Regions from separate parts of the Homo sapiens genome. Here region 1 is linked to region 2. The links come from fine-mapping of genetic effects on gene expression. A gene starts in region 2. The other region holds a variant in brackets. All regions are shown on one strand. Distances are between the middles of the regions.

Region 1 (5,000 bases), 22 kb after region 2:
TATATGCTTGATCATTTTTCCAAAATTGCCAGCTTTAAAAATTCTCTTTCTGCTCTTGAAAACTCTAGAAAATGGTCTGGATTTGAAAACAGCATTCATAGGTTAGACCAGCAGTTTGCAACCATTTTGGTCTCAAGACCTCTTTATAGCTCTTTGGGCTCTTTGTTTTAATATTTGATTAATGTTTATCAATATTTACCATATTAGATATTAAAACAAATTTTTTAGAATACAAGAATATCAAGTACATGTCCTGTTAGCTATCATTGTGATGAAATTATCACATATCATATAACCTCTTGAAAGGTACACTGTACACTTGTGAAAGAGTGAGAATGAGAAAGGTAAATAACGTCTTGTGAAAATAGTTTCAACTTTACAAAGCTCCTGAAAGGATTTCGGATGGCCCGGGGCTCCCTGGATCATAGGTTAAGAATTGCTAAGTTAATACACTGACAAAAATGGAATGTACCAGTAACACTTATCTATTGTAAACCTGTATCAAATAATATATTAAAATATTTTGTCATAGAAATCTGTTCAAACCCTAGTTTTTAGCCATCACATATATTTTCTTCTTTTACATGAGTCTAGTCTTTAGATGTATTAAAAGATTCTGATTAATACATTTGTGTTTACTGTGTGTCAATTGTTTTGTGGTCTTTAGGCTTGCATGTATTTATAAATCCTCAATCTTGTTCACAATGGTTGACAAATACCTATATAACAGCATTAAAAATTAATAGATGCATAGATTGGATCCCCCCAAAGCTGGTTTTGTATATATACAAAAACATATTTCATGAAGTTCCTAGAGAAGGGCCACATGAGTTTCCTTGTAACTAAAGCAGAGAGTAAAACATGATTGATCTATTTCAGTAACCTCAAATAGAAACAGTAAAATAATTATAGTTTTTGATCAAGAACAGTGAAGGTTTGTCAAGGCTGACTTTGGTATTTGATACAATGTTATAAACATGTTTTCAGTAAAAATATCCTTTTCTATACTTTTTGGTTAGATCTACTTACTTATTATTTCTTTCCCAAATGCCAAAGCCTTTGTTTATTTTTTCTCTACTTAGATCTTTTTAAAAATATATTTTTTATTGATATATCATAGTTGTACATATTTTTGTGGTACATGTGATATTTTGATACATGTATACACTGTATAATGATCAAGTTAGAGTAATTGGTGTATCTATCATCTCAGACATTTTTTTTTGGGTTGGGACATTACAGTTCTTCTTTTCTAGCTATTTTGAAATATACAATAAATTATTGTTAACTATAATTTCCTTGCTGTATTATTGAATGCTAGAACTTATTCCTCTGATTTAACTGTACGTTCATACCCATTAACCAACTTCTTTTCATCACCCCCCTTCCTAGATTTACTCAGAATATGTATAAGTGATACTAATGTAGGCATATACACATTTCATAAAAAGAATATACTGTGTTAGAAACCAAACATCAATACTCTGAATTCTTTGACAGCTGGCTTGTAATAAGTGATACATTGAATTGCCCCACAGTTTTGCAGAGGAGAAGCAGAGTGGAGGCCGAGAAAGTAAGCAAAAGAAGATGACACTGAAGAACCCTGTATGATAGGATATTGTTAGTTGGCATTATGAATAGTAACATTTGCTATTTAATTTGTTTCGCTGTTAAATTTATTTCAGACTGTATTCTAATTCCTATGGCATTTCTTATTGTTAAGCAGGTCTTAGTCACTATAAAACAGAAAATATGAAAAGAAAAGCTAAGGGAGGGAAAGGCAAGTTTTGATTAACAAAACGTCTGAGTTACACATGATTTTAAATAGGAGTGTGGTTTTATTTTTTTCAAATATGTACGGTGAAATACTTCTAAAATACCAAGTAAGCAGATCAGTAGACCATGGTCTGGAGCCCCAAGAAGAGGTTAAAGATGTAAATTTGGGATGATGTGCTTATTTAGCCCCTTTTAAATGAATTTTATATTCTGTGGTTAAAAAGAATCTTTGATTTGTTAATTTAATAGGGACTTACTGACAATTTGGGGTTAGTTGTCACATTTTGATTAATCCTTATGAGCTTTAATGTTTGAATATAATAATAAACTTTTAAGACACTATTGATTGTTAGGTCAGCCTAATAATATGCATGCAGTGATCTGGACTGATTGATCAGTAAATGTTGATGAGCGCTTTAGATCAAAGTCCACAGTACTTTCTTGAATTGGCTCATTCAACCATAGCTGTATGCTTATATTATGATTATGACGAAGGTATCTCATTTGAATGTAAAAGGCTTATGTTTATGTTTGGACTAGTCTGGGGGAGGAAGAAGAATCTAAACTGTCCTTGCTGTCTTAGTAATTTACAGTTTGTGACACAGTAACCTTGAGGGAAAAATAACCTAAATATTGTACAAAGAAGAACAGAAAAGGCTTTCAGAGAAAGTACAGGTAGTTGATTTTGGGCATACATAGGAAATTAGTATGTTTCACTGTGATCACATTTGAACTGAACTTTGAAGGACAAGGTAGCCTGTAGGAGGTGAGGAATGGTATAGGTAAAGACAATGAGCTATAGTGCCTGACGGGTAATTCCACTTATGGAAATTTATCATTCTCTGTTTTATTTGAGCTTTTTTGTAGCAATCAGTTATTACGGACACCTTCAGAAAATTTTTTAAAATTCAAAAGTGTTTAGAAATTTTTTCAAATTTCTTATCAGATATTTCTTAGAAATTTGCCTCTTGTCAAGAACCTGGCTGAAGTTTAATGACAAACCATCCAGTAACAGACATAATGGAAGAAATGCAGTTTCAAATCAATTGTTGCAAGTTTATCAAAGAGCATACTGAGGGTACCGTAGTGGAACTGGCACCTTGTGGGTTGTGTGCATGTACAGTTGGTAGTGTTTTCTTTTGGAAATCAAAAGGACAAT[A/G]TATAATAACTCAAAAGAAAGTTATATGCTGTATTTCTGGCAGCAACAATTAAAAGTCTCTTATATTCAGATATAACTAAGGTACCTCAACACAAAGGAGAATTATGCTACTGTTGAAATGTAACTTTTTGACTATTGTCTAATACATGCAAAATGGCTGATGCAGGGCAACAGGAAAAAATCAGCTTAAAAAATAGCTTAACTGTGGCTACAATTAGGCAGTAATTTGCTCATGCAAAAACTCAAAGGGGATATATAAAAATGAAATACTATGGGATGGTAAGATTAAAGATTATTTTTCGTTTCAAAATATTTTTGTTATTGTTAGAATACATTTAATTTTTTAAAAGCTTTCAAGAGAAGTAACAATTAGTGTTAGTGAATATTTGAGGAATTCTCTGAAGCCTTGAGGGTTTGAAACATTTGGCTTTAACGAGTATGGAATTTTAAAGCAGCGTTTGACTTGATGTTACTGTAGTAAAACCTCGCTTACTGAGACAAGGTAGGAGAAGGACCAATATATGATAGTGAAAATCAGATATCTTTTAAATGATTTTTAATTACCTTCTTATATATACAAAACATAAATTAATGATTATTAAATAATGCTAAGTTATCTGAATGAAGAGATTTTCCTTTTAAAGATTTTAGTTTTTTAGTGCATTTTTGATTCACAGCAAAACTGAGGGGAAGGTACAGAGATTTCCCAGATCCCCTCCTTCCTCCACAGACAACCTCCCCCATTATCAATATCAGAGTGGTACTTTTGTTATAATACATAAACCTATATTGATGCACCATTATCACCCAAAGTCCACAGTTTACATTAGCGTACACTCTTGGTGATGTACATTCTGTGGGTTTGGGCAAATATATAATGCATGTATCCACTGTTAGTAGTATCATACAGAGGAGTTTCACTGCTCTAAAAAAATCCTCTGTGCTCTGCCTATTCATCCCTCTTTTCCCCTTAACCAGTGGCAACCACTGATCTTTTTACTGCTTCCACAGTTTTGCCTTTTTCAGAATGTCATATATTTGGAGTCATTTAATTAAGTAGCCTCATTAGATTGGCTTCTTTGACTTAGTAATATGCATTTGTTTCTTCCATGTCTTTTTATGGCTTATTGGCAGATTTCTTTTTAGGGTTCTGAATAATGTTTCATTGGATATGCACCAAATCTATTTTGTTCATTCAACTACTGAAGGACATTTTGGTTGCTTCCAAGTTTTAGCAATTATGAATTAAGCTGCTATAAGAATCCCTGTGCAAATTTTAATGTAGACATACAAATTTTTAACTCCTTTGGGTAAATGCTGACGAGCATGATTGCTGGATTGTATGGTAAGAGTATATTTAGTTTTGTAATAAACCGCCGAACTGTTTCCCAGAATGGCTGTGCTATTTTACATTTCCACTAGCAATGAATGAGAGTTGCTGTTGCTCCACATCCTCACCAGCATTGGGTGTTATAAGTGTTTTGGATTTTGGCCATTCTAATAGATATATAGTGGTATCTTACTGTTTTTGTTTGCATTTCCCTGATATGTGATATGGAATATCTTTTCATATGCTTATTTACTCATCTGTGTATCTTTGATGAAATGTCTGATAAGGTATTTGGTCCATTTTTAAATTGGGTTGTTTGTGTTCTTATTGCTGAATTTTAAGAGCTATTTGTGTATTTTGGATAATAATCCATTATTGGATATGGGTTTTGCAAATATTTTCTTCCAATCTGTGCTTTATCTTTTTATTCTCTTGACAGTGTCTTTTGCAGAGTAGAAAGTTTTAATTTTAATGAAGTCCAGCTTATCTGTTCTTCCTTTCATGGATCATGCCTTTGGTGTCATTTTTAAAAAGTCATTGCCAAATCCAGGGTCATCTACATTTTCTCCTATGTTATCTTCTCATGGAATTTTAGTTTTGGATTTTACATTTAGGTCTGTAATCCATTTTGACAGAATTTTAATGAAGAGTGTAAGGTCTATGTCTAGATTCATGTTTTTGCACGTGAAGGTCCAGTTGTTCAGCACAATTTATTGAAAAGTCTATCTTTTCTCC
Region 2 (5,469 bases):
GTTAAATATTAAATATTAGTTGACTATATTTGTGTGGATCTATTTCTGGACTCTATTTTGTTCCATAGATCTATTTCTCTATTCTTTTGAGAATACTACACTGTACTACACTGTCTTTTTTTTTTGGTTTTGAGACAGAGTCTCACTCTATTACCCAGGCTGAAGTGCAGTAGTGTGATCTTGGTTCATTGCAACCTCCGCCTCCCAGGTTCAAGTGATTCTCCGGCCTCAGCCTCCCGAGTAGCTGGGATTACAGGTGCCTGCCACCACGCCCAGCTGATTTTTATATTTTTAGTAGAAACAGGGTTTCACCATGTTGGCCAGGCTGGTCTCAAACTACTGACCCCAAGTGATTCACTCGCCTTGGCTTCAATACTACACTGTCTTGATTATTGGAACATATACTATTTTTTTTTCTTTTTTTAGGCAAGGTCTAATTCTGTTGCCCAAGCTTGAGTGCAGTAACTTGATCATGGCTCACTGCAGCCTCAATCTCTTGGGCTCAGGCAATCCTCCTGTCTCAGCCTCGGAGTAGCTGTGACTACAGGTGTGCACCACCACACCTGGCTAATTTTTTTTTTGGAGAGATGAGGTCTCACTGTGTTGCCCAGGCTGGCCTTAAACTCCTGGGCTCAAGCGAACCTCCTGCCTCAGCTTCCCAAAGTGCTGGGATTACAGGCATGAGCCACTGCACCCAGCTATACTGTCTTCAAGTCTGTCTGTTTTCTCACTTTGTTTTTCTTTAATATTGTATTGGCTATTCTGGCTCTTGTGGCTTTGCATGTAAACATTAGAACTGGTTTGCTGATATCCACAACATAACTTGAGGTGATTAGAATTGAATCAGTAGATCAGGTTGATAAGAACTGATATTTCTTGCACATTTTTAAAGTTTTGCTTTTAACATTTAGGTTTCTAATCTTCCCCAAATTAATTTTTATGCATAATAAGAGGGAGGGATCAAAATTTTTTTCTCATACAAAAAGCAATTGTATCACTACGGTTCATTGATCAGTCTGGACTTTCTCACTAATTTTTAATGCTACTTTTGTTATATACAAAGTTCTCATATGTGTGTAGGTTTTGTTCTGGGACTTTATTATGTTCTAGTAGTTTATTTGCCCATACCTAAACCAATATATAATACATCCTGGTAGGGTTGGTCCTCCCAATATATTCCCTGATCTTACCTGTCCCTATCCTCCTCTCCCCAATTACAGCGCTTTTCTTGGACCTTAAGTTTTGATATGAATTTCAATGTCATTTTAACAAGTTCAGTAAAAAAACCCTTTTGAGATTTTAACTGGAATTGCATTATATGTACTGATTAGTTCAGGGAAAATTGAGGCCTTTACATTAATCTTTTCTCATTTATGAATATGGTTCATTTCTCCATTAATTTTATCCATGGATCCTGTACATTTTCGGTTACTTTTGTTCTCAGGTACCTAATAGTTTTTTTTTCTTTTCTTCTACTTGTTAATGGACTCTTATTTACCATTACAAACTAGTGCAGTTTGCAACATAATTTTCAATTAAATTGTTTTACAGTTACATAGTTTTAAAATTCTTAAAATGTCAACTGCTTAATAAAAAATACAATTTATACAAAAATACAAGAGATACTATCTGAAATGTGAAAGTAGTAGTATATTTATGATTTCTCCCCAAAGTGGAAGGAACACACACTCTAATGTTTCTTGTAGAAAATTATGCCTAAATCTGGCAGGGCGCGGTGGCTCACGCCTGTAATCCCAGCACTTTGCGAGGCCGAGGTGGGTGGATCACCTGAGGTCAGGAGTTCGAGACCAGCCTGGCCAACATGGTGAAACCCATCTCTACTAAAGATACAAAAATTTGCTGGGCGTGGTGGCACGCGCCGGTAATCCCAGCTACTCGAGAGGCTGAAGCAGGAGAATCCCTTAAACCCGGGAGGCGGAGGTTGCAGTGGGCCAAGATCGCGCCATTGCACTCCAGCCTGGGCGACAGAGTGAGGCTCCGTCTCAAAAACAAAACAAAAAAAAACAGAAACAAAAAACAAACAAAAAAACCACTAAATTTGAAAAATGTTAAATCAACTTCTTTGCTGTATTATAAAGCTCCATTTCCACCCCTCTTTTTAGTTTAGGAAGTTTACCGTTATCGGTGAAGTAATTATTTTGTTAATTACAAAGGTAAGTAGGTTCTTTCTGAACAATCAGGATGTAAACTTAATGCTAGTGAAGTAATTAAACATTTTGAATGTTAATTAAACTCAGTCCAGTTAAGGGTTTTATTTACTACTAACAAACGTATTCACCGTGTGCTAAGTGCTGCAGGGAATCCCAGCCCGTTTTCCTCCATCTAAAAGGAAAATTAGGAGGTCCCAATACTTTACTTGTAGATTTTCCAGTTTCTACCATTCCCTGTAAGGCACTGAGACGCAAGATTTCAAGGCCCACTCGGGGTACCCTGGCATGGACATCGAGTCGTTCTAGCGCTGAGCTTCAAAACTATTCCTTTCCTTCCCTTTCTTCTTCATACCAGACTCTAATCTGTTCTCCCTAGCTTCGAATTATTCACTGTATGGTCGAACATCTTACTCCACAAATAACCTCTGAAGTGTTGCAGTTGTCTTACCCAAATACCTGAACTCAGCTTGTCCCGAGTACTGCGATCCCGCGTACTGCTAATGGGAATATAGTTAACCCAACTAGTATGAGGTCCCCAGTACACAGCAGCTCCAAGATCAAGGCGACCGAGTAACACTGCTTGCCTAGACTCAGGCCAAGTTCGGAGAGTGATCCTGGGGTTATTTTAGAACGTGTCCCTTGCTTCCCAGAAAAATTCAGTCGTTAACTCAAGTCCAGATGCCCAATGACCATTCGGATAAGGTGAGCTAAAGCTTCAATGCCTTGAGGGGCTTGGCAGGGCTCGGGCTCATCCCGGAGAAGCAGCCCCGCTTTCCAGACTAGCAGTTCCCAGGGATGGGTGTGTGCTAATCGCAGGCCAACAAGCCCAGCGCGGTACAGAGGTCCCATTGTGACCGGAGGCGAGAAACCCCGCCTCGGCACCCTGACGCAGCGCAGGACCCGCCCCGCGCGTGACGCCAGCGTCAGGCCAGCCCCGGCATGCTCTGCGGCCGCCCGCGGTCCAGCTCCGACAACAGGAATTTTCTCCGAGAGCGGGCCGGGCTCAGTTCAGCTGCTGTCCAGACCCGGATCGGCAACAGTGCCGCCTCCAGACGTTCTCCTGCCGCTCGCCCGCCCGTCCCAGCGCCCCCAGCCCTCCCGCGAGGGCGCCCCGGGACGGAAGGATCCACCAGTCTGTCGGCGCCCGCCGTTCTCGTGGTCGCCGTCGCCGTCGTCGTGGTGGTAGTCTCCGCCGTCGCCTGGGCCATGGCCAATTACATCCACGTCCCTCCCGGCTCCCCGGAGGTGCCCAAGCTGAACGTCACCGTTCAGGATCAGGAGGAGCATCGCTGCCGGGAGGGGGCCCTGAGCCTCCTGCAACACCTGCGGCCTCACTGGGACCCCCAGGAGGTGACCCTGCAGGTAACGCCCACACCTCAGCTCTGGGTCTCTTATGCCCCTCACGCGGCTCTGGGGGTCCTCACCACAATCGCCTCTGTCCCACGATGACCGAGGAGGACCTAGGGCAACATCTCCTTAAGTCTATTGGGAAGTGACCCTGTATTTCCCCTCACACCTAGGAGGGTCACTCCCCCTTCCCGTCGCAGTTGCTCTTTGAGATTGACCTGAGGCACATTTTCTCTTTCTAGAAGCCGCTGCGTAAGTGACGGACCCATCCACGGGGGGAGATTCCTGCTGATAGTTGCCCCTCCTCCCACTCCCCAGTCCACGGTCACTGCAAAATGAACCTTTCCACTCCCCTTGCACGGGGTCCTCGTCTACCTCCTCCCCTCCCACCAGTAATGCAGTCATTAATCCTCTCTGATCTTTCCTTCCTCTCCCCTCCCCCTGCGATGTGCTTTCATTGATGCCTCACACTGCGTTTTGTCTTCCCAAACCCTAGCGTACTCAATTCCCAAAGTAATGACCACGACCATGCATCGCTAGGTCGGTTCTTAGGCAGCACCACACACATTGTTTTGTTTGAGTCGATATTTCTGAATTATTAAAGTCGTCTTACTGAAATTAATACCTGATACTAGAAGGAGCAGTGGCTTGTGACTGTTTCCTTTTCATGAGACACCGTGTTGATAGAGAAAAAATTGGGAGGAAAAAAATCCCTGAGACTCTAGGAGTTTTCTAATAAGTTGGAAGTTATGATTTCCACTACGTGATTTTTTTTGAATACTAATCTGTTTTTAGCTTTAGTTTCAGGAACTAGATACAAAAATAGATCTCTTTTTCTCCTTTTCCCTTGCAAACAAAAAAAAACAGTAATTTTCAAGATTGGGATATTTGGGATTTGTTCTAAATCTGAGCAATAATGTAAGAACATTCATTTGAATTAGCCAAATCATCTGCCTCGTTTTGATGACTAATTTATTCACCAATATTTGTTGATTTATTTGCTAAATTCTTCGCTAAACTAGCCAGCCACCCACACAAAGATGAATAAAACATGAGCAGTGCCTAGGGCCCAGAACAGTTCCTGACACTTGGGTTTTCATGTGTTAGTTTCAGTTCTTATTACCTAGAAGAGTTTTTAAGCAGATTATTTTAAAGGACCCGTATGTTTTGGAGAAGAAACTTGTTAGACAACAAATTTTGAAATTTAAGGGAGTATTTGTTAGCCGAGAATATAGGAAATAGTGAATCCAAAGTGATTTTTATGTCATTTAAAAAATATATTTCCTTTAAAGGAAATGTGTCTTCCAAATTGAAATTCAGTACTTGTTTAGTTTATCAATTTGTTTGTATTTTATTATATAAGACTCTAAAATTTATTAAGATGATTTGTTTTCTGGCAGTCACTTATACATAAAACATTATTAATTAAAAAGTGCTACTTCCTGGTAAACTCTAGTGTTGGCAGATCAGTTACTTTTAAGCAGTGACTTTAAAGTTTAAAGCTTTGAAGACTGGAATTTCCTTTGATGTATTTGTCTGTAGAATAGTAATAATAGCTACTGTGGGGTTAGTTAAATTATTTTTTTTTTATCTTAGTCGCCCGAACAACCATATTAGGTAGGCACTATCATTTTAGGTGAAACTCAGTGAAGTAAGCCAGGATGTAGGTAAAAAAGGGCAAAATGTAGTGACATTAAACTGTTTTTGCTTGTTGGAAAGTAACTACGTGTGTTTAAATCTTGGTTTCTTGTAGCAACTTTTAACCTAAAGACCTTTGGGTTTATAATCCGAATTTTTAATATTTGTAAGTGCAGGTAAATACTACCATTTATTTTTCCCTAAGATGATTATTAGTTAGAAATACATTCCCTCCATGTGCAAGCAAAGCTTTGGTCTAGAAGCTGTCCTAAAAGCATCTGCTAAGCTGAATTGATGATTATTCACCTTTCAA

Evidence for each region. PIP is the estimated chance that this variant, and not a neighbour inherited with it, causes the effect.
Region 1: its variant is the best candidate, but not a certain one, in a credible set for the expression of ETNK1 in whole blood (TOPMed, PIP 0.63).

What each region holds. Positions count from the first base shown.
Region 1 is chr12:22,644,483-22,649,482 of GRCh38, forward strand. The region is part of intron 2 of ETNK1 (ethanolamine kinase 1); the gene reads left to right. Among named protein-coding and RNA genes, the nearest start is that of ETNK1, 22 kb to the left of the region's middle. The variant A/G (reference allele first, on the strand shown) is at 2,936.
Region 2 is chr12:22,622,054-22,627,522 of GRCh38, forward strand. It overlaps ETNK1 (ethanolamine kinase 1), which reads left to right and starts at 3,118. Exons shown (of 8, transcript NM_018638.5): 1 at 3,118-3,533. The coding sequence starts at 3,378. ETNK1-DT (ETNK1 divergent transcript) reads right to left here and starts at 2,993. Exons shown (of 4, transcript NR_135030.1): 1 at 2,620-2,993. RefSeq lists enhancers at 2,763-2,832, 3,363-3,532, 3,552-4,241.